Homo sapiens: one gene and its partners. The protein of the gene in region 3 purifies or fractionates together with the protein of the main gene of each other region. This does not show direct contact. Each region holds a gene or a part of one and is shown on either strand. Other genes may lie near its edges.

The links.
Region 1: the proteins of FAM217B (region 3) and CILK1 purify together in Homo sapiens (affinity purification with mass spectrometry; 3 studies listed by BioGRID and IntAct, with this or other methods). This does not show direct contact.
Region 2: the proteins of FAM217B (region 3) and CALR3 purify together in Homo sapiens (affinity purification with mass spectrometry; 3 studies listed by BioGRID and IntAct, with this or other methods). This does not show direct contact.

Annotation. Positions count from the first base shown.
Region 1 is NC_000006.12:53,002,821-53,009,851, forward strand, and holds part of CILK1 (serine/threonine-protein kinase ICK), read right to left. Parts: intron 6,748-7,031; coding exon 6,619-6,747; intron 4,780-6,618; exon of another isoform or gene 4,669-4,779; intron 3,618-4,668; coding exon 3,495-3,617; intron 2,484-3,494; coding exon 2,329-2,483; 3' UTR 1-2,328.
Region 2 is NC_000019.10:16,479,164-16,486,194, reverse strand, and holds part of CALR3 (calreticulin-3 precursor), read left to right. Parts: intron 1-937; coding exon 938-1,032; intron 1,033-2,079; coding exon 2,080-2,265; intron 2,266-3,409; coding exon 3,410-3,517; intron 3,518-3,613; coding exon 3,614-3,745; intron 3,746-5,488; coding exon 5,489-5,581; intron 5,582-6,920; coding exon 6,921-7,031. UniProt on the Homo sapiens protein: During spermatogenesis, may act as a lectin-independent chaperone for specific client proteins such as ADAM3. Required for sperm fertility. CALR3 capacity for calcium-binding may be absent or much lower than that of CALR.
Region 3 is NC_000020.11:59,943,364-59,949,186, forward strand, and holds the end of FAM217B (protein FAM217B), read left to right. Parts: intron 1-576; 5' UTR 577-580; coding exon 581-1,732; 3' UTR 1,733-5,317; downstream 5,318-5,823.

The DNA.
Region 1 (7,031 bases), on a different chromosome or scaffold from region 3:
ACAATTTTATAATGTGCAATAATCAGGTAACTAGGTTTTTCAGTTAAAAAATGTAATGACCTTATATAAGCTAGATTACTGAGACTATGGTATTAAACAATCCATTTGCTCCTCTAAGGAATATTTACAATTTAAAACCTGCTTTCCAGCAAGCTGGGCCAGGTTTCACATTAATTTACTTTTCATATATAATACAGAAAATGAAAATAAATATTAACCTTATAGTAAAGGACTCATCTCTGAAAACACATGTTCTGATGCTTTAGATAACGAGTTGAGAATATAATACAGAAATGAATTCAGCTTCAAGTTGTGCTTGCATATATATTTTCTGAAGCTTTGCTGCCAGCTTGTTAACAGGAAAAGACCACCTATCACATCCACATCCATTATGTGCTTTTCTCATGCCCCTAGGGATCATGGTGCTTGGTCAAGTATATATTTGAGTCAAATTCTCCAAAGCATAAATTACTCTCCGATTTTAGGTTAGGGCCCTTTGGAAGCCATGGTTATTTGTTCAGAATGCAACATATTATTAATACACCAAGGCAATAATTTACCAAGTCATTAGGTTGAACCATATGAAAGTGTCTATATTCATTTCACCTATCATTTTAACCTATAAAAATGATCACTTGGCTGGGTGCAGTGGCTCATGCCTGTAATCCCAGTACTTTGGGAGGTGGAGGAGGGTGGATCACGAGGTCAGGAGATCGAGGCCGTCCTGGCTAACACAGTGAAACCCCGTCTCTACTAAAAATACAAAAAATTAGCTGGGCGTGGTGGCGGGCGCCTGTAGTCCCAGTTACTCAGGAGGCTTGAACCTGGGAGGCAGAGGTTGCAGAGAGCTAAGATCGCGCCACTGCACTCCAGCCTGGGTGACAGAGTGAGACTCTGTCTCAAAAAAAAAATAAAAAATAAAAGATTACTTACATATGGTTCAATTTGTCATTATCCTGGAACCAATAGAGAGTAGTTTGAGCCCTAGGAGAATATGAATCAATACACTGTTGAGATTGCATTGCGTTCACTGATGGTGACCTTCCCTCTTGCCTTTAAGGCAACCATAAGTGAGGCAAATGTACCATATAGAGATGGATGAGACTGGACCTTTTGTCTTTTTCTGTCTCCAAACTGACTTTGTCATTTTTGAAACTGCTGTAAACATTCCTCTCAATGGAACAGCCTCTGCCCAACAAATAAAGTTCTCACTCTTGAAAGAAACTACACCAGGGTTAGGAGATCAAATGTGGCATGTGACTGTGACTTTGTAGATGAGTGGAACCTCTGCCATAACTCTTTCTGCTCCCCAAATTGTCCTGAGAATTTGGCTAGGACAGAACATTAGTCATTGACTGCTCCTAGCCAGATCTGGAGAACTGAGCTAGGCACAAAATTCCATCTCAGTTACTATAATCAAAAACCTTCTGCTGCTTTGATACTTAGTTTTTTGGCCATGCATCTTGGCAGGAATGTAAGTTTGATTGACTGTGTTAACCTTCATGTTGAGAGCCTTTTGAAGCAGAAATCTCTTTTATTGGTACACATACAACTTGATTTCAAAAATGGAATAAATTAGAATATAATGGCATAGTATAATTAAGCTTGGTTTCATCTGAGATCTGCAACCACATTAAAGGGTGTCAGAAAAATTTTTTAAAATGTATTTACTTAGAGTTCTTTCATCTGGGGAACAAAAGTAAAACAAAGTGAATTATATAATATAATAGTCCTTTTAGAACAGCAGAGTGGTATCCAAAAATCAAACCAATGACCTACTAAGAAAAGCAGAGGATCACTTTTCTAACAACAGTCCAAGAAGGCCTGAAGTACCTAGTGAGCCACACTTGAAATTTCACCACTTCATAAATATCTGCACACACTGAGTAAATAACCCTCTATCACATAGCCTTAAATTGCACCCCTGTTGCAATACTGCATTAATATTATTACATTTTTCAAAATCTGTAGAAAATATTATCTGGAACCCCAAAGGAAAATCAATTAATTTTTAAAAAGTTCATTACAAAGTTGACTGTATAAAATGCTAAAACATAATCCATATATACAAAATGCTGTTGTTTAAGAAAATAATGGGACCCAGTTTTAGAATAAAATAATTTTATACAAAAAAGCCTACTGCATTCAAATCAATATTTTAAAAAAAAACTTTAAAAAAGAATATTGACATGTCTTAGTTCAGAAGAATAACTATAAAGTGTTGATTTGCTTTTATGCCCTCTGCACATCTTGCAGGTAGAACACCAGTCAGCTGAGGGAAAGTATCCTGCTTCTCCCTAGGAAGAGATTCATCACCAAGGCAGACAGTCATCGCCGAGATGCGTACTTGGAAGCCCAGTCTGTCCGGCCATGCACTGGCTGGGCGGCTGGAGGCCGTGGTATCAACCCAGGAGTGCTTCTAGGCTGGGTGTGGAAGAATGGTCGCCCAGGATGAGGTCTCATGGCCTTCAGGGAGGAATAACCTGCAATGAAAGAAAAAGGCCGGCATGACTGATATGGGGCCAATGTAAGCAAAGTACAAATAAATGCATTTTGGTGACAAAAACATGAGAAAATAAGGAGTTCAAGAGGAGCATCTTGTCTCCTACTTATAATCTTCTCTACTGCAGTTAAAGACATCGTTTTAAAGTTGTCAGGCCAAAAATAATGGCATCATTCTTGACCCCTCTTTTTTTCATATACCACATATAATTTGTCAGGATATCCTATTAGTTCTACCTTCCAAATATTTACAGAACCTGGCAACTTTTTACCAACTGAACTACTACCACGCTGGCCCAAGCTAGCATCATTTCTTACCTGGATAATTTCAACATCCTCCTAATTGGATTCCCTGCTTCCTACCTTGCCCCTACTTCAGTCTCATGACAACAGCAGCTTGAGGGAGCCTGTGGAGATGGCTGTCAGATCACCTCACTTATGGACTCAAAGCCCTCCAGGGACTCCACGTCACTCAGAATCCATGACAATGTGCTTACAGGCATCGTATCACCCCTGACCTCATCTTGCTACTCCCCCTCTCACTCCTGTCACTCCCACACTCTGGCCTCCTTGCTGCTCCTTGAATTTGCCAGGCCAGTTCTGCCTGAAAGCTCAAGCACAGAACAATCTCCTGTCTGGAAAAGCCTCACTCATACTGTATGCTTGCTCAATCACCTCCTCCAGGTCTCTACTCAACAACTCCTTTGCAGTGAGCTCTTCTTTAGCTACTCTATCTAAAATTGTAACCTGTACCCCACACTCCAACCCCCACAATCCCTACCTCCTGTCTGCTGTATTTTTCTCCTTAGCACTAAGTCAGTAAGCATCTGACTTACTATATGTTATATAGCACTTATTTAGCTTACTTATTGTCTGTAGAGTGCAAGTTTCATTTATTGGTGGATCCCAGGCCTAAAACATGCCTGGCACAAAGCAGTTGTTGAGTAACCATTTGTTGAGTAAATTCATGAATAATTTAAAATACAACTCACCAGGGGAAGGGTCTGGAATAGGTGCTAGGTGTACCCTCTGCATAGCAGAACCGATTTCTTTTTTCAGAAAGGAAGGGACATAGTTTCCAGTCAGTCCACTAGAACTTGTAGAGCTGGAACCAACTGATTTGCAAAAGCAAAAAGCTCATTATTACAAAGACATGTACCCAGGACACCAACAAGGTTAAATGACAGCACTGCAGAGCAATAACAAACTAAGTTTTTACTTTTAGGGAAAAGAGCAAATCATGATAAAAATGAGTTCAGAGCCAAGCATCCCACCATACTACCCTGTCAGAAAGACTGCGGGGGCCAAAGACAGTGCTGCTCCTGTGAGGGGCAACCAAATAGAGGGTGGGTTGGTTGTGAAATTTTTTTAAAAAAGGGAAATATGACATTTGTTCTTTATTTTCTTTTGTAAAAGTAGATTTAGACTATTCTAAAATTTGCTTTTTTCACTCCATAATATAGAATAGTTATCCTTCCATGTGAGTACATATAAATTCTAGAGTATGGCTAAACCATAATCCATTTAACCATTTTCTTATTGATCAACACACAGGTTATATTAAATTATTTAGCTGTGACAAGTAATTACACACTAAATATTCTTATCCACATCAGAAAAATTAACCATTTTTTACAATGTGAAATACCTTAACTTTTTATGTCATTTCCACTTGGGAGTGCTTTAAGGGCAGGGACTGTATGCTACTCGTCTTGGTATTCTGGGGAGGATAACAGAATGCCTTGCATATAGCAGATAATCAATTAATTTTGGATGGGTGAATGAATATAATTCTTATTATTTAGGCTTAAAGGTACACATGGAATAATGAAGACTGTTATTATTGCCCGTTATAGAAATGGAAATTCTAACCATTAAGAAAAGTCAGTAAGTAGTAGAGTTGCTCTGTTTTCACAACACAGAGCTTTTTCAGCAATTGTTTAAGGCAGAGTGGAAACACAGTCTAGAATGCCTGCGTGAGGAGTTGCGTTGGTCAGCTGGGGTGTATTTTGTACTTTGGTGAATGAAGAAACATGAAGAAAAATGGGAAGAGAATTTGAACAGGTAAGTCACAAAAGAGAAAAAACTTATAGTCAATAAACACAAGAAAAGATGATGAACCTCATTAGTAAATAGGACATGCAAGTTTAAACCACAATAGGATACCATTTCTCACTCATCAGATTAGCACAAATTTTAGTCTTGACAGTACCAAGTGGCATCAAGGATGCAGAGCAACTCCCATATCCCGCTGGAGAGCAAGTAGTTTGGCAATATCTGTGAAGTTGAAGATGAGCACACCCTTTAACCTAAAATGTTGACTCTGGCTGGGCATGGTGGCTCACACTTGTAATCCCAGCACAATGGGAGACCCAGGCGGGTGGATCACCTGAGGTCAGGAGTTCGAGACCAGCCTGGCCAACATGGTGAAACCCTGTTTCTACTAAAAATACAAAAAAAAAAAAAAATTAGCTGGGTGTGGTGGCACATGCCTGTAATCCTAGCTACTTGGGAGGCTGAGGCAGGAGAATTGCTTGAACCAGGGAGGCAGAGGTTGCAGTGAGCCGAGATCATGCCACTGCACTCCAGCCTGGGCAACAGAGCAAGACTGCGTCTTAAAATAAATAAATAAATAAAAATAAATAAATAAAATAAAATAAAATAAAATAAAATGTTGACTCCTAGTTCTCGTACCCAGAGGAATCCTCACACATGTGCATAACAATAGGGGTACAATAATCATCTCAGCACTCTTTCTAATAGCAAAAATTGCAATCAACTTATGTATTTATCAAGAAGAGAAGGCATACATAAATTATGGTCCACATAAATAATAAGTTATGGTGTTGTATAGATATATATTGTATATGTTATATAATATATGATATATATCTCTATAATTGCTACACATATATTTATTAAAATGCATGAAGCAGTGATCCAAGATTATCTTCACATAAATTTTAAAACCTGCAAAACCACACTATGAAGTTTATACAAACCTAAATAAACACTCGATCAGGCTGGCATGGGGGGAGGTAAGGGGAAGCAGGGAGGCGGGAAAGGCACAGACACTGGGCTTCATGTGTATTTGCCAAGTTCAACTTTTTTTTTTTTTTTTGAGACAGAATCTCACTCTATCACCCAGGTTGGAGTGCAGTGGCGCAATCTTGGCTCACTGCAACCTCCGCCTCCCAGGTTCAAGTGATATCCTGCCTCAGCCTCCTGAGTAGCTGGGATTACAGGCCTGCTGCCACCATGCCTGGCTAATTTTTATATTTTAGGTAGAGACAGGGTTTTACCATGTTGGCCAGGCTGGTCTCAAACTCCTGACCTCAAGTGATTCACCTGCCTCAGCCTCAGCCTCCCAAAGTGCTGGGATTACAGGCATGAGCCACCACACCTGGCCAAAGTTTGACTTCTTAAGCTGGGTGATGGCTACACAGGTGTTGCTATATTATCTCTTTCTTTTTTATTTTCCTTAAATTAAACAAACACCTAATGGATGAAGGCAGTGCACTTGGCAGTGCAGAGGGGAAAGCAGCACATGGCAGGGGCTGCCTGCATCAGGGAAAAATGATGCAGGAAACGTCTCTACTGTGAACAGGGTTTGTCAGCCTTGGGACTCAGTAAATTCATTCATCCGTTTAACAAAAAAAGTGGGGAGGGTCTTCCAAACTGTCCACCTTCCAACTAGAAGGGATCTTGATACTCTGGGCCTGCAGCTGGGTCATCAGAAGGAGGGGACAGGCTGGAACAAGGCAGACACAGCCAAGGGTGACTTCCACCTCAAGAGGAGGGTGCCTGCTGCAGCCAGGGCTTTAGCCATCAGGCCTAGTAAGAGTCTGTAAAGGTATTTTTGTTTTTCCCTTGAGCCAGGGATGACTATGCTCTACTCCCCAGCTACCCTGGAAGGCAGACTCCCCTGGGAGCTGGCTGAGTCCCAAGGGACTGCTGCCGAGAAAGAGAGGAGGATAGGGCTGGAAAAGAGGCCTGAGCTTTCAGATGACAAAGGCCCCTGTGCTTCCAAAGCCCGTCCCATGACTCCTTGTGCCCACCTTCCTGCATCCAGGGAATTTGCTTTTTGCCATTTAGGGGTTAATGATCATTACTCACCTGAATTTACTTTGCTGATTACTGACATTGTCCCTGAAGATTTTCCAGACAAGCCAGAACTAGACCATGGATTAGGTGGAATAAATTCCTTGCCTGGATTCGAGAGTATGCCATTTCTTATACTGATCCCTGATAGAGAAGAAATGATTTTAAAATGCAAAATACACAATGAATCTTACACTAGACTACAAAGATAAAATTAATGCAGAACTCAATTTGTCAAAAACTCTCTATGATACAATAATCAAAGCAAAAACTGACTGTGATGATGTCATCTGACAGATGTCCGAGGAAAGATATCTCACTGGTTGGTGGCCCGAGAGAGGCCTCTTATGCTTCTAAGATCCAATGGATCTGTCCCACCTCTTGGCCCTCTGGTGCCATCCTGGGCTTCACTGCTGCTGGACATGCTG
Region 2 (7,031 bases), on a different chromosome or scaffold from region 3:
ACAGGGACACGCCACCACTCCCAGCTAATTTTTGTATTTTTAGTACACACGGGGTTTTACCATGTTGGCCAGGCTGGTCTCAAACTGGCCTCAAGTCATCTCCCCACCTTGGCCTCCTAAAGTGCTGGGATTAGCAGGCCACTTTGAATATTTAAATAAGCTTCAGAACACACTCAAAAGTGAGTGGAAAGCCAGGACATTGTCCTTTAACAACAATAATAAGATATTCACACATGTGACCAGATGCAGTGGCTCACACCTATAATCTCAGCACTTTGGGAGGCCAAGGCAGGCAAATCACTTGAGGTCAGGAGTTTGAGACCAGCCTAGCCAACATGGCAAAACCTGTCTCTACTAAAAACACAAAAATTAGCTGGGCCTGGTGGTACATGCCTGTAATCACAGCTATTCTACTCGGGAGGTTGATGCAGGAGAATCACTTAAACCCGGGAGGCGGAGACTGCAGTGAGCCAAGATCCCACCACTGCACTCCAGCCTGGGCGACAGAGTGAGACTCTGTCTCAAATAAATAAATAAATATCTTAGTGTGAATATCTGATTATATGTAAGAAGAATGGACTGCACGTGGTGTTTCAAGCCTGTAATCCTAGGACTTTGGGAGGCCGAGGCAGGTGGATCACAAGGTCAGGAGTTTGAGACCAGCCTGGCCAGCATGGTGAAACCCCATCTCTACTAAAAATACAAAAATTAGCTGGGCATCGTGGCATGCGCCTGTAGTCCCAGCTACTCAGGAGGCTGAGGCAGGAGAATTGCTTGAACCCAAGAGGCAGAAGTTTCCGTGAGCCAAGATCACTGCACTCCAGCCTGGGTGACAGCAAGACTCCGTCTCAAAAAAAAAAAAAGAATGGTTGTGGGTTGGTTATTCTACGGTGATGCATTATGGAAAGAAATTGAGAGCAGCTAATCTTTTTTGTAGGACCCGATATTTGTGGATTTGATATCAAGAAAGTTCATGTTATTTTACATTTCAAGAATAAGTATCACGAAAACAAGAAACTGATCAGGTGTAAGGTAACTGCTCTTGTATTCAAATAAATGAGTGTTAACTCCTGCCAGACTAAGTTTAGAAAAAATAGTTTTGATAATAAAATACTTAACTGAGCCAGGGATGGGTCTTTGTAGACATACCTCCTGTTTCCAGTTTCCAGTTTAGGGGGCCCATTGGAGATACTTCTCTCCTTTAACTGGTTTCCTGAAGTTTTTACCCCATCAGGAGGGCACTCTCATTTTTTACTGTGAGCTATGACATGTCATCATTTGCCCTATGAGGGTTACAATAGTACAGTCACATTTCAGCCACATCCATCCTCATTAATGAATGAAATATTCAGGATGAAAAAAACATTCTGGAGAAATGTCTGGGTGCAGTGGCTCACACCTGTAATCCCAGCAGTTTGGGAAGCTGAGGCAGGAGGACTGCTTGAGCCAAGGAGTTCAAGACCAGCCTGGGCAACATGGCGAAATCTTGTCATGACAAAAAATACAAAAATTAGCCAGGTGTAGTGCCAGGAACCTGTGGTCCCAGCTACTGGGGAGGCTGAGGTGGGAGGGTCACTTGAGCCTGGGAGGTCAAGGTTGTAGTGAGCTCTGATTGCACCACTGCACTCCAGCCTGGGTGACAGAGCAAGACCCTGTCTCAAAAAAATAAAAATAAAAATAAACTGCATATTTAGACTTGCATTAAAACATCGAGAGTTGGCCGGGCGTGGTGGCTCATGCCTGTAATCCCAGCACTTTGGGAGGCTGAGGCAGGTGGATCACCTGAGGTCAGGAGTTCGAGACCAGCCTGGTCAACATGGTGAAACTCTGTCTCTACTAGACACAAAAAATTACCCAGGCATGGTGGCAGGTGCCTGTAATCCCAGCTTCTCAGGAGGCTGAGGCAGTAGAATCGCTTGAACTCAGGAGGTGGAGGTTGTAGTGAGCCGAGATTGTGCCACAGCGCTCCAACCTGGGCGACAGAGTGAGACTCCATCTCAAAAAAAAAAAAAAAAAGAAAAGAAAAGAAAAAAGAAATTGAGGATTTAATTGTTACGCTTTTCCCCCTAAAATATGCAGGTTGATGGCTTCACACACCTGTACACTCTAATTTTAAGACCAGATCTTTCTTATGATGTGAAAATTGATGGTCAGTCAATTGAATCCGGCAGCATAGAGTACGACTGGAACTTAACATCACTCAAGAAGGAAACGTCCCCGGCAGAATCGAAGGATTGGGAACAGACTAAAGACAACAAAGCCCAGGTGTGAATTTTTCCTGGGCAACTCTAAAAAGTGCACAAATGTAGTTTGTAAGTACCCAGTTACTGGACAATTGCTGCATGGCTGGTAGCCACGATGGCAATATTATAGAACCAAATGCCCTCCCCAGAGCACACACTGCAGACCAGCCACATCTCTACACATCTGAAGGTATCGTAAAACATTTATTTATTTACTTATTTATTTATTTTTTGAGACAGAGTTTCGTTCTTCTTGCCCAGGCTGGAGTGCAGTGGCGTGATCTCAGCTCACGGCAACCTCCGCCTCCCAGGTTCAAGTGATTCTCCTGCCTCAGCCTCCCGAATACCTGGGATTACAGGCACCCGCCACCATCCCTGGCTAATTTTTGTATTTTTAGTAGAGATGGGGTTTCACCATGTTGGCCAGGCTAGTCTCGAACTCCCGACCTCAAGTGATTTGCCTGCCTTGGCCTCCCAAAGTGCTGGGATTACAGGTGTGAGCCACCACATCTGGCCATCACCATCACTTTTTGCACCATCATTTTTCACTCTAGCCACTACTTGAGGTTTCCACACCGCTGCTCCTCTCCATAGCATGCAGGAAAGGGCTAAAGTCATATGGCAGGTTAGGGAGAAAAATCTAGGCAGTGTGGTGTTGCCCTGAAGTCCTCAGTGGGATTGGAAGCACCAAGCACTTGGCCTCCTGACCACCAAACTGAAGAAGGGAGAGGGACACTGGGACAGGGGTCACCAGCCTGTGCCTGCCACTTGGCATCTAATAATTTCCTTTCTCAAATCTGAGCATCTGGCTGGGTGTGGTGGCTAATGCCTGTAATACCAGCACTTCCAGAGGTCAAGGCAGGAGGATCGCTTGAACCCAGGAGTTCGAGACCAGCCTGGGCAACAGAGGGAGACCCTGACTGTACAAAACATAAAAATAGTAGCCAGGTATGATGGCGGGCGCCTGTAGTCCGAGCTACTTGGGAGGCTGAGGCAGGAGGATCACTGGAGCCCAAGAGGTTGAGGCTGCAGTGAGCCATGATTGCACAACCGCACTCCAGCCTGGGTGAGAGCAAAACCTAGTCTCAAGAAACAAAAACAGAAGCAACAACAACAAATATATGAGCATCTGACTGATTTTACTTTTTCCTTACATGTCTTTGAAGGACTGGGAGAAGCATTTTCTGGACGCCAGCACCAGCAAGCAGAGCGACTGGAACGGTGACCTGGATGGGGACTGGCCAGCGCCGATGCTCCAGAAGCCCCCGTACCAGGTGTGTGGCCTCTTTGTATGATGCCAGGGATGCCCCAGGGCTGCCCCTCCGCTGCCCATGTCATTGAGACCACCCCATATGGTTTTTTTGATACAGGATGGCCTGAAACCAGAAGGTATTCATAAAGACGTCTGGCTCCACCGTAAGATGAAGAATACCGACTATTTGACGCAGTATGACCTCTCAGAATTTGAGAACATTGGTGCCATTGGCCTGGAGCTTTGGCAGGTCATTTGGTTTTAACTTTACTTTAGATTTTTTGCGTGTGTGTGTTTTGTTTTGTTTTGTTTTGTTTTGTTGAGACAGGGTCTCATTCTGTCACCTAGGCTGGAGTGCAGTGGCACCATCCTAGCTCACTGTAGCCTCAAACTAGGCCCAAGCGATCCTCCCACCTCAGCCTCCCAAGTAGCTAGGACTACAGGCACAAGCCACCACATCCAGATTTTTTTTTTTTAAGAAATGGGAGTCTAGGCTGTGCGCGGTGGCTCACTCCTGTAATCCCAGCACTTTGGGAGGCTGAGGCGGGTGGATCACAAGGTCAGGAGATCGAGACCATCCTGGCTAACATGGTGAAACCCCGTCTCTACTAAAAATACAAAAAAAATTAGCCGGGCGTGGTGGCGGGCGCCTGTAGTCCCAGCTACTCGGGACGCTGAGGCAGGAGAATGGCGTGAACCCGGGAGGCAGAGCTTGCAGTGAGCTGAGATCGGGCCACTGCACTCCAGTCTGGGTGACAGAGCAAGACTCCGTCTCAAAAAAAAAAAAAAAAAAAAGAGATGGGAGTCTCAGAACTTCTAGGCTCAAGCAGTCCTTCCACCTCAGCCTTCCAAAGTGCTGAGAGTTTTGTTTGTTTTTTTGTTTTAATGCTTTGGTGATCCCAGCTGGGCTCAGTGGCTCATGCCTGTAATCCCAGCACTTTGGGAGGCTGAGGGGGGCAGATTGCCTGAGCTCAGGCGTTTGAGAGCAGCCTGGGCAACATAGTGAAACTTCGTCTCTACTAAAAATACAAAAATTAGCTGGGTGTGGTGGTGCGTGCTTGTAGTCCCAGCTACTCAGGAGGGTGAGGCATGAGAATAACTTAATCCTGGGAGGAATCACTTGAACCCAGGAAGTGGAGGTTGCAGTGAGCCAAGATCGCGCCACGGCACTCCAGCCTCCGCAACAGAGTGAGACTTCACTTCATCTCAAAAAAAAAAAAAAAAAAAACAGAGCGAGACTAAGTCTCAAAAAAAAAAAAAGTTTTGGTGATCCCGATGTGCAGCCACGTTTAAGGAACCAGTGCCTTAGAGGGAAAGGATATTCTAGAAATGGGTTTAAGCACCACCTACTATTCTAATTGCTGTTATAGTATACACTACTGAGCAAAATACAACTGTTTCTTTTTGAAAAGTTGTTACATATGTCACATCAATAATGAAGGCCTAGTAGCCAGGGACAGTATGGCTCACGCCTGTAATAGTCCCAGCTACTGGGGAGGCTGAAGTGGGACCATCACATGAGCCCAGTTCTTTTTTTTTTTTCTTTGAGACTGAGTCTCACTCTGTCACCCAGGCGGGAGTGCAGTGGCACGATCTCAACTCACTGCAGCTTCTGCTTCCCGGGTTCAAGCGATCCTCCCACCTCAGCCTCCCAAGTAGCTGGGACTACAGGCATGCACGACCACACCTGGTAATTTTTGTATTTTTAATAGAGATGGGGTTCACCGTGTTGGCCAGGCTAGTCTTGAACTCCTGACCTCAAGTGATTCACCTGCCCCAGCCTCCCAAAGTGCTGGGATTATAGGTGTGAACCACCACGCCTGGCCAAGCCCAGAAGTTCAAATCCAGCCTAGGCAACATAGCAAGACCCCATCTCTAAAAAATAAAAAATGTCACCTGAGCTTCATGTATTTCCAAAGGAAAAAAGAAATGAAAAATAAACAAATAATAAAGAATAAAAGCATAATAATGAAGGCCTTATTTTCATCTGCAGGTGAGATCTGGAACCATTTTTGATAACTTTCTGATCACAGATGATGAAGAGTACGCAGATAATTTTGGCAAGGCCACCTGGGGCGAAACCAAGGTATGAAGCACGTGATTAACTCTTCCTACATCACTATTTCATTTGTGTAAATTTTTTTTTTTTAGATGGAGTCTAGCTCTGTCACCCAGGCTGTAATGTAGTGGCATAGTCTCGGCTCACTGCAACCTCCACCTCCCGGGTTCAAGCGATTCTCCTGCCTCAGACTCCCAAGTAGCTGGGACTACAGGCGCATGCCACCACGTCCGGCTAATTTGTGTATTTTTAGTAGAGAGGGGGTTTCACCATATTGTTCAGGCTGGTCTCGAAGTCCTGACCTCAGGTGATCCACCTGCCTTGGCCTCCCAAAGTGCTGGGATTACAGGAGTGAGCCACTGTGCCTGGCCCCATGTAAGGTTAATATTGGCAGGTTCCAGGGATTAGGACATGAATTTTTTTTTTTTTTTTTTTTTTTTGAGACGGAGTCTCGCTCTGTCGCCAGGCTGAAGTACAGTGGCGTGATCTCGGCGCACTGCAACCTCCACCTCCCGGTTCAAGCGATTCTCCTGCCTCAGCCTCCCGAGTAGCTGGGACTACAGGCACCTGCCACCACACCCAACTAATTTTTGTATTTTTAGTAGAGACGGGGTTTCACCATATTGGCCAGGATGGTCTCGCTCTCTTGACCTCATGATCTGCCTGCCTCGGCCTCCCAAAGTGCTGGGATTACAGGTGTGAGCCACCGCGCCCAGCCAGGACATGCAATCTTTACAGGTTCTTCTTATTCAGCCTATCCTAGGTGGTGAGGAGGCTTCTAGAAGGCAGGGTCTGCCTGAGTACTGACATGCATTTGGCCACATGGAAGCATAACCCCTGGCCTCTGGGGCTTTTTTTGTTTTGTTTTGTTTTGTTTTGTTTTGAGACGGGTTTTGCTCTGTCACCCAGGCTGGAGTGCAGTGGTGCCATCTCGACTCACTGCAACCTCCGCCTCCTAGGTTCAAATGATCCTCTCACCTCAGCCTCCCGAGCAGCTGGGACTACAGCCACACACCACCACGCCCAGCTAATTTTTGCTTTTTTTTTTTTTTTGAGACAGAGTCTTGCTCTGTCGCCCAGGATGGAGTGCAGTAGAGTGATCTCAGCTCACTGCAAGCTCTGCCTCCCAGGTTTAGGCCATTCTCCTGCCTCAGCCTCCCGAGTAGCTGGGACTACAGGCGCCCACCACCACGCCTGGCTTTTTTTTTTTTGTATTTTTGGTAGAGACTGTGTTTCACCGTGTTAGCCGGGATGGTCTCGATCTCCTGACTTCGTGATCCATCTGCCTCGGCCTCCCAAAGTGCTGGGATTACAGGCACGAGCCATCGCACCCGGTGGGGCTTATGTTTTTTCTTTCTTTCTCCAGGGTCCAGAAAGGGAGATGGATGCCATACAGGCCAAGGAGGAAATGAAGAAGGCCCGCGAGGAAGAGGAGGAAGAGCTGCTGTCGGGAAAAATTAACAGGCACGAACATTAC
Region 3 (5,823 bases):
TTGTAACAAGCTTTTGATTTAAGGTACAGGTTTGTATGTGCAATACTTTTATATATTAAAATTTCACTCAGCTCAGAATCGCCACCAATCAGTGATTAAACTGCAAAACTTGCATGTTTATTTGATATTTACACTTAATTTAAAATAGGTGTATAAAATAAAACTGTTTTTACTTCTGAATGTTATTAAATGCTTTTGATGGTAACAATTCCAGAGTTCTACGACTGATTTTTTCCAAACTAATGTTTTTTTTTTAAAGTACACACGAAAGTATGAAACAAGCACTTTGAGAAATGTTAATGTTTTTCCTAAATGCTAATATTTGATATAAAATGGAAACTGTGCATTCTCTTTTGTCACATGCATTATATAATGTATCTCAAATAGAGTATTATATGGGAAAATGTTCTGTAAAATTACTTATGCTTTAAGGAGTTTGGAAGCTGACATTTTCTAATGCCTACTAATAGCTGAGACAAAAAAAAGTACAACTAGAAGATTCTTTTTGTTTGTTTAATTATAGCCAGACCATTTTTTGTCATATGTGGTAAGAATTGCAGTTTTATTTTCTCACAGCAATATGAATGCTGGCCCATCTTGGAATAAAGTGCAACATTCAAAGAATTCTTCAGGAAAAAGGCAGAGTAAATCCCAAGTACCCCACGCTTCTTCCCAGCCGAGAAGCAGCCTCACAGCTGTCACCCAGCCTACTGAAGAAAAACTTAAAGAAAGCATTTCCCCGGAAGCAAGACGCAAAAGGAATCCACTCGGTTCCAGGTGTCAGGGGGCCTCAGGGAATAAACTGTTTCTTGATTTTCAGTCAATGAAAATTATTAAAGAGAATGCTGATGAGGACAGTGCAAGTGATCTCTCTGATTCGGAAAGAATTCCCATTCCTCCTTCTCCCCTCACACCTCCAGATCTCAATCTTCGAGCTGAAGAAATTGATCCAGTTTACTTTGATCTTCACCCTGGTCAGGGCCATACAAAACCTGAATACTATTATCCTAATTTCCTTCCATCCCCTTTCAGCTCCTGGGACCTACGAGATATGGCCCTGCTTCTGAACGCAGAGAACAAAACGGAAGCCGTGCCCCGAGTGGGAGGACTTCTTGGGAAGTATATCGATAGACTTATTCAGCTTGAGTGGCTGCAAGTCCAGACTGTACAGTGTGAAAAAGCAAAGGGGGGCAAAGCAAGGCCCCCCACTGCCCCTGGGACCTCAGGGGCACTGAAAAGCCCTGGGAGAAGTAAGCTAATTGCTAGTGCTCTGTCCAAGCCACTACCTCACCAGGAAGGGGCTTCAAAGTCAGGCCCTTCCCGAAAGAAAGCTTTTCACCATGAAGAAATCCACCCATCACATTATGCATTTGAGACTTCCCCTAGACCCATTGATGTGCTTGGTGGTACCAGGTTTTGTTCTCAGAGGCAAACCCTTGAAATGAGGACAGAAGAAAAGAAAAAGAAATCAAGTAAGAGTACGAAGCTGCAGCGCTGGGATCTGTCCGGCAGTGGAAGCAGCTCTAAGGTGGAAACCAGCGGTCACATTCGAGTTCCCAAACAGGCAGCTGTGATTCTGGACTCAGCAGATTCCTGTAAGGCCTCCAAAACACAAGCACATGCACATCCTAGGAAAAAGGGAAAGGCAGAGAGCTGTGGTCATGCCACTGTATCGAGTGAGAAAAAACTGAAAACAAACGGAGTAAAGCAAAACACATATAAACTAAAATAAATATCTAAAATGCTGAATTGCCAAGACCTGCAGGTACCTCAATGTTAGAGCGCTTCCAAAAGTCAAAATACTGTGAATTTTAAGGAATTTTACAAATACTGACATTTAAGTAGTTGACTGGCATTTTTGTCCACCTTTATTTCTACCCTGAGTGGGGTTATTTTCAAAGGGAAGTGTCTTTCAATAAGCCTTTCTTTGTATTGTCAGTCTTAGGCAAATGAGAGCCCTTTAGATAAAAATTATGTAAAATATGTGCCATATAAAGGAATAAAATGGCACCTCTCCAGGGAAAGTGTCAGTGAAACCTCAGCTACAGTAGCCGGTCTGTGTAGAGCAGCTAGTGGTGTTACCTCCCCATTTTCACATGCACGTAAGTATATGAAATAGTGCAGACTGTTTCAAATGGTGTGGAATCCTAAATGTTTAAAATAAGGTCCTTCTTGCCCACTCCCTCGCTTACTTTTTTATAAACTCCTCAAGCAAAATTTCTGTTCATTTTACCCTTAGGAGAAGCTTTAGTTCTTCCTCAAGTCAGGGAGTAGTGAGTTTGTATTTTGAGTAGTCATTTCTCACTAAGCTGGTTGCTTTCTAGAGAGACAGTGGAATCTAGTACTTTAATACATTTTCTCTGACATGGTTTTTTTTTTCTTTTTTGAGGGGCATTTTAAACTTAGAGGTGGTGGTAAAACCTACTTTTGAGTTCTCCGAACTGAGGTTAAAATAACTTGCAGAATTTTCCAAAGTCAATGGGCTTAGCATGATTACTGCTGTTTGGTGGGGCTGAGAATGAAATATTTGACATTCTGGAATTGCTGGCATGTAAAGCTTCTCCAGAGAGGCACCCCAGGGAAATCACTCTTTACAATTTGTAAAGGAAGGGCCTGTAAAAGGATCAAAACACATGGACCTACATTCAGTGTAATAGTTACAAAGTTACTGATTTGGGTTCCACACCCTGTGGTCCTTAGTCAAAAATAATGATCTGTTTCAGTTTGCAAGAGCAGGATTTTATTATTTTGCTTGGGGTGAGGGGCGGGAGAGTGGAATATGAGTAAGGTTGCTGAATGAATTCTAAACTCGCTTATCTGGTCTTCAGGCTTCCCAACTCTCTCCAAGCCTTCTTATTTCACTGCAGTTAAATAACATCTTCTTGTTCCTATAGTTGTGCTGTGAGTTTTCTGTTCATATTTGCGCAGTGTATTTTAATACGGCCCATGTCATTATAGTTGATTTTATCCCTTTAAACAATTACTGTATTTGTTTTTGACGTAGAGGTTTCAATTTTTTCACCTTGGGGGCAAATGAAAAACTTGGCATTTTTCATTTGGGAACATATAATAGCTTGTAAACTTTTCAGACAGCAGTAAATGTCTGAAAAAATATCAAAAACAGCATAAAGACAAGATTATGTAGCTCTAATTATACGTATATAATTATAAAAAACAATGTGCAAGGGTTATATTTTAAGGTCTTTTAAAATCTGATTTTGATCATACCAAATGACATAATATTTTTTATGGTAGCCTTTTACTTTCAAGACTTAATTTTCAGACTTGTACAAGTTCCTTCTTACATTCTTTCCCTCTCACACCATCCTACTGGAGAAAGCATACTTTTATGCTAAGATCTTACTTTAAGCTTTTTATGTGAACAAAAGATGTACATATAGTAAGTATTACTTCCGTAGTCCTCAAATTTACTATAACTTTTGTACTTAGTATATGTTTTATATTTGGAAAACAGCACTACGCTTAGTTTTCCTGTAGTTCCTGAGTGATGTCTGTGTGTTCCTTGCCTGCCCTTTTTTGTGAGCACAGATTAGTCTGTTATCCATGGCTGGCACTTCACTTATGATCCTTTCTCTGCTAGATTTTTATGCAGCTCTCTATGAAGTTTCATGGCCCATAGATATTCAAAAGCAAGATATTCTATACATATGTGTATATGTATATATACTCCTTATGTTAATACTAAAGTGTTTATGCTGAGTTGCTGCCTTTCCCCGTCATGTATCCATGTGCATGCTCTTAGAGACCTTGAATGGTTGAGGGTAAAGTGATTTATTAGTAATTCTACTTGCCTTGTGTATGTCTGAGCTGAAAACAATCGTGATTAAGAAATTTAGAGGTGGCTGGGCGTGGTGGCTCACGCCTGTAATCCCAGCACTTTGGGAGGCCGAGGCAGGCGGATCACCTGAGGTCGGGAGTTCAAGACCAGCCTGACCAACATGGAGAAACCCTGTCTCCACTAAAAATACAAAATTAGCCGGGTGTGGTGGTGCATGCCTGTAATCCCAGCTACTCGGAAGTTTGAGACGAGAATCTCTTGAACCCGGGAGGCGGAGGTTGTGGTGAGCCAAGATCGTGCCATTGCACTCCAGCCTGGGCAACAAGAGGGAAACTCCGTTTCAAAAAAAAAAGAAAAAGAAAGAAATTGAGAAGTAACGCCTCATAATATTTGTTCCCAGCTTTTTAAATTGAAGCTGGTTGCATAATCTGGGGAATAGTCATAATTTCATGTGTTATACAGTTTAAAAAGCCTGCAAAAGTGACTTTGCTTGTTTACTTTCTGCCTCAGATTGACTATTTTAACCAATATTGTCACGACTAGATCATAGCTCCTAGTGAATAACATGAGGTGTTTTAAAGTTAGGTCTATTACAGAATTAACATAAGCACAATTTTAATTTTATGATATCTGATATGCCTATCTAATACATCTTAATGCATTAAATGCTGCAGATAAGAATCTTGCTATTTTTCAAGTAGACAACATTAGAAAGTTGAATCATGAACTCATTCAATTCATCAAGTCAAAAGCACTGAGTGTTTTGCTAGTCTAGTGACATGGGTTATTGTATTTCCGAGAAGTGCCTCTCATTTCTGGGGAGTTGTTTACATATACCCTGCATTTAAACCAATTAAAACAATCCAAGTTTCTTTAAAAAAAAAAAGAAAAAGAAAAAGAAAAAGAAAAATATTTTAGGCTTAGAATTATCTAATGGAAAAAATGTAAAAAAGTACAAAAATGAACTAAAAGTATATCAGTATTTGCAGTATTTGCTGTGATTACTTAGGTTTAGACTTTCTCAACTTCTTAGATGACTAAATGGGCTGAAGACTTGTAACTAACTTGAATAGGATAGACTTCATACCCTGTGACAAAAAGGATGGGGAAGAGAATATCATTGGTCTTGCCATATACCTCCTAGCTAAAAGGAAAATGGTTTGTAGTTGTTCTTGGGCCTACTGTGTTGCTTTTCAGAAGGACATAAGACTTTCTACTTTATCTGATATGGATATCGTCTACTTCCTCATTCCTTTATGCTCACTTATGGAGTAGTTACATAGAAATATAACTCTTGGTGGTACTGTATTTTAAGGTAATTCAGAAGCAGTATGTATTATTTATGTACATGTACAGGACACCATTCAAAATGGCTTGAAAATATTCAGCATGTTTGTTATTTGCTGTTATATTGTATGTTTAGTTTTGTATGTGATAAACAGAATTGATGTAAGTTTTTGTGGACTTGAATTTCTCCTTCCTTGAGATCAATTAAACAGCAGAAAAATATTGTCTGGATTTTTCTGGTATTGTTTTGTTTTGCTTTTCATGCAGTTCTCTTCTGAAGCTTGCCTTTATTTTCTCCCTGGTTATTTAAAGGAATTGCCCAGGATGAAATGCTGTTACAACTCCTGTCTTAACACTAAGCGACATGGGTGGCCAAAGCACAGGTTAACATTACCGGATATATCAGAGAAGCATTGCAGTACATTTCTTGAGTCGCTCTTCCACTTACTACTCCATGTTGAGGATTAATTAGGGTAGCAGGATGCAAATTCAGTAAGCATAAATTAAGGTAACCTGTGATGTAATGAACTTGCACCTTTATGTACATATCCGGAAACGAGTACCATCTCTTTCAAGGAAGTGGCCTGGTTAGGAGATAGCAGTTTTGAGCAGCTCCAGCTGCAAACATTCTCAAAAGCCCTTTGCTCTTCTTTCTAACTTCACTCTGACAATAGGGTGCATTCTTTTGAGTCTACCAAATTGTGGCAGTAATGTTCAGTGGCTTAAAAAGTAAGTTT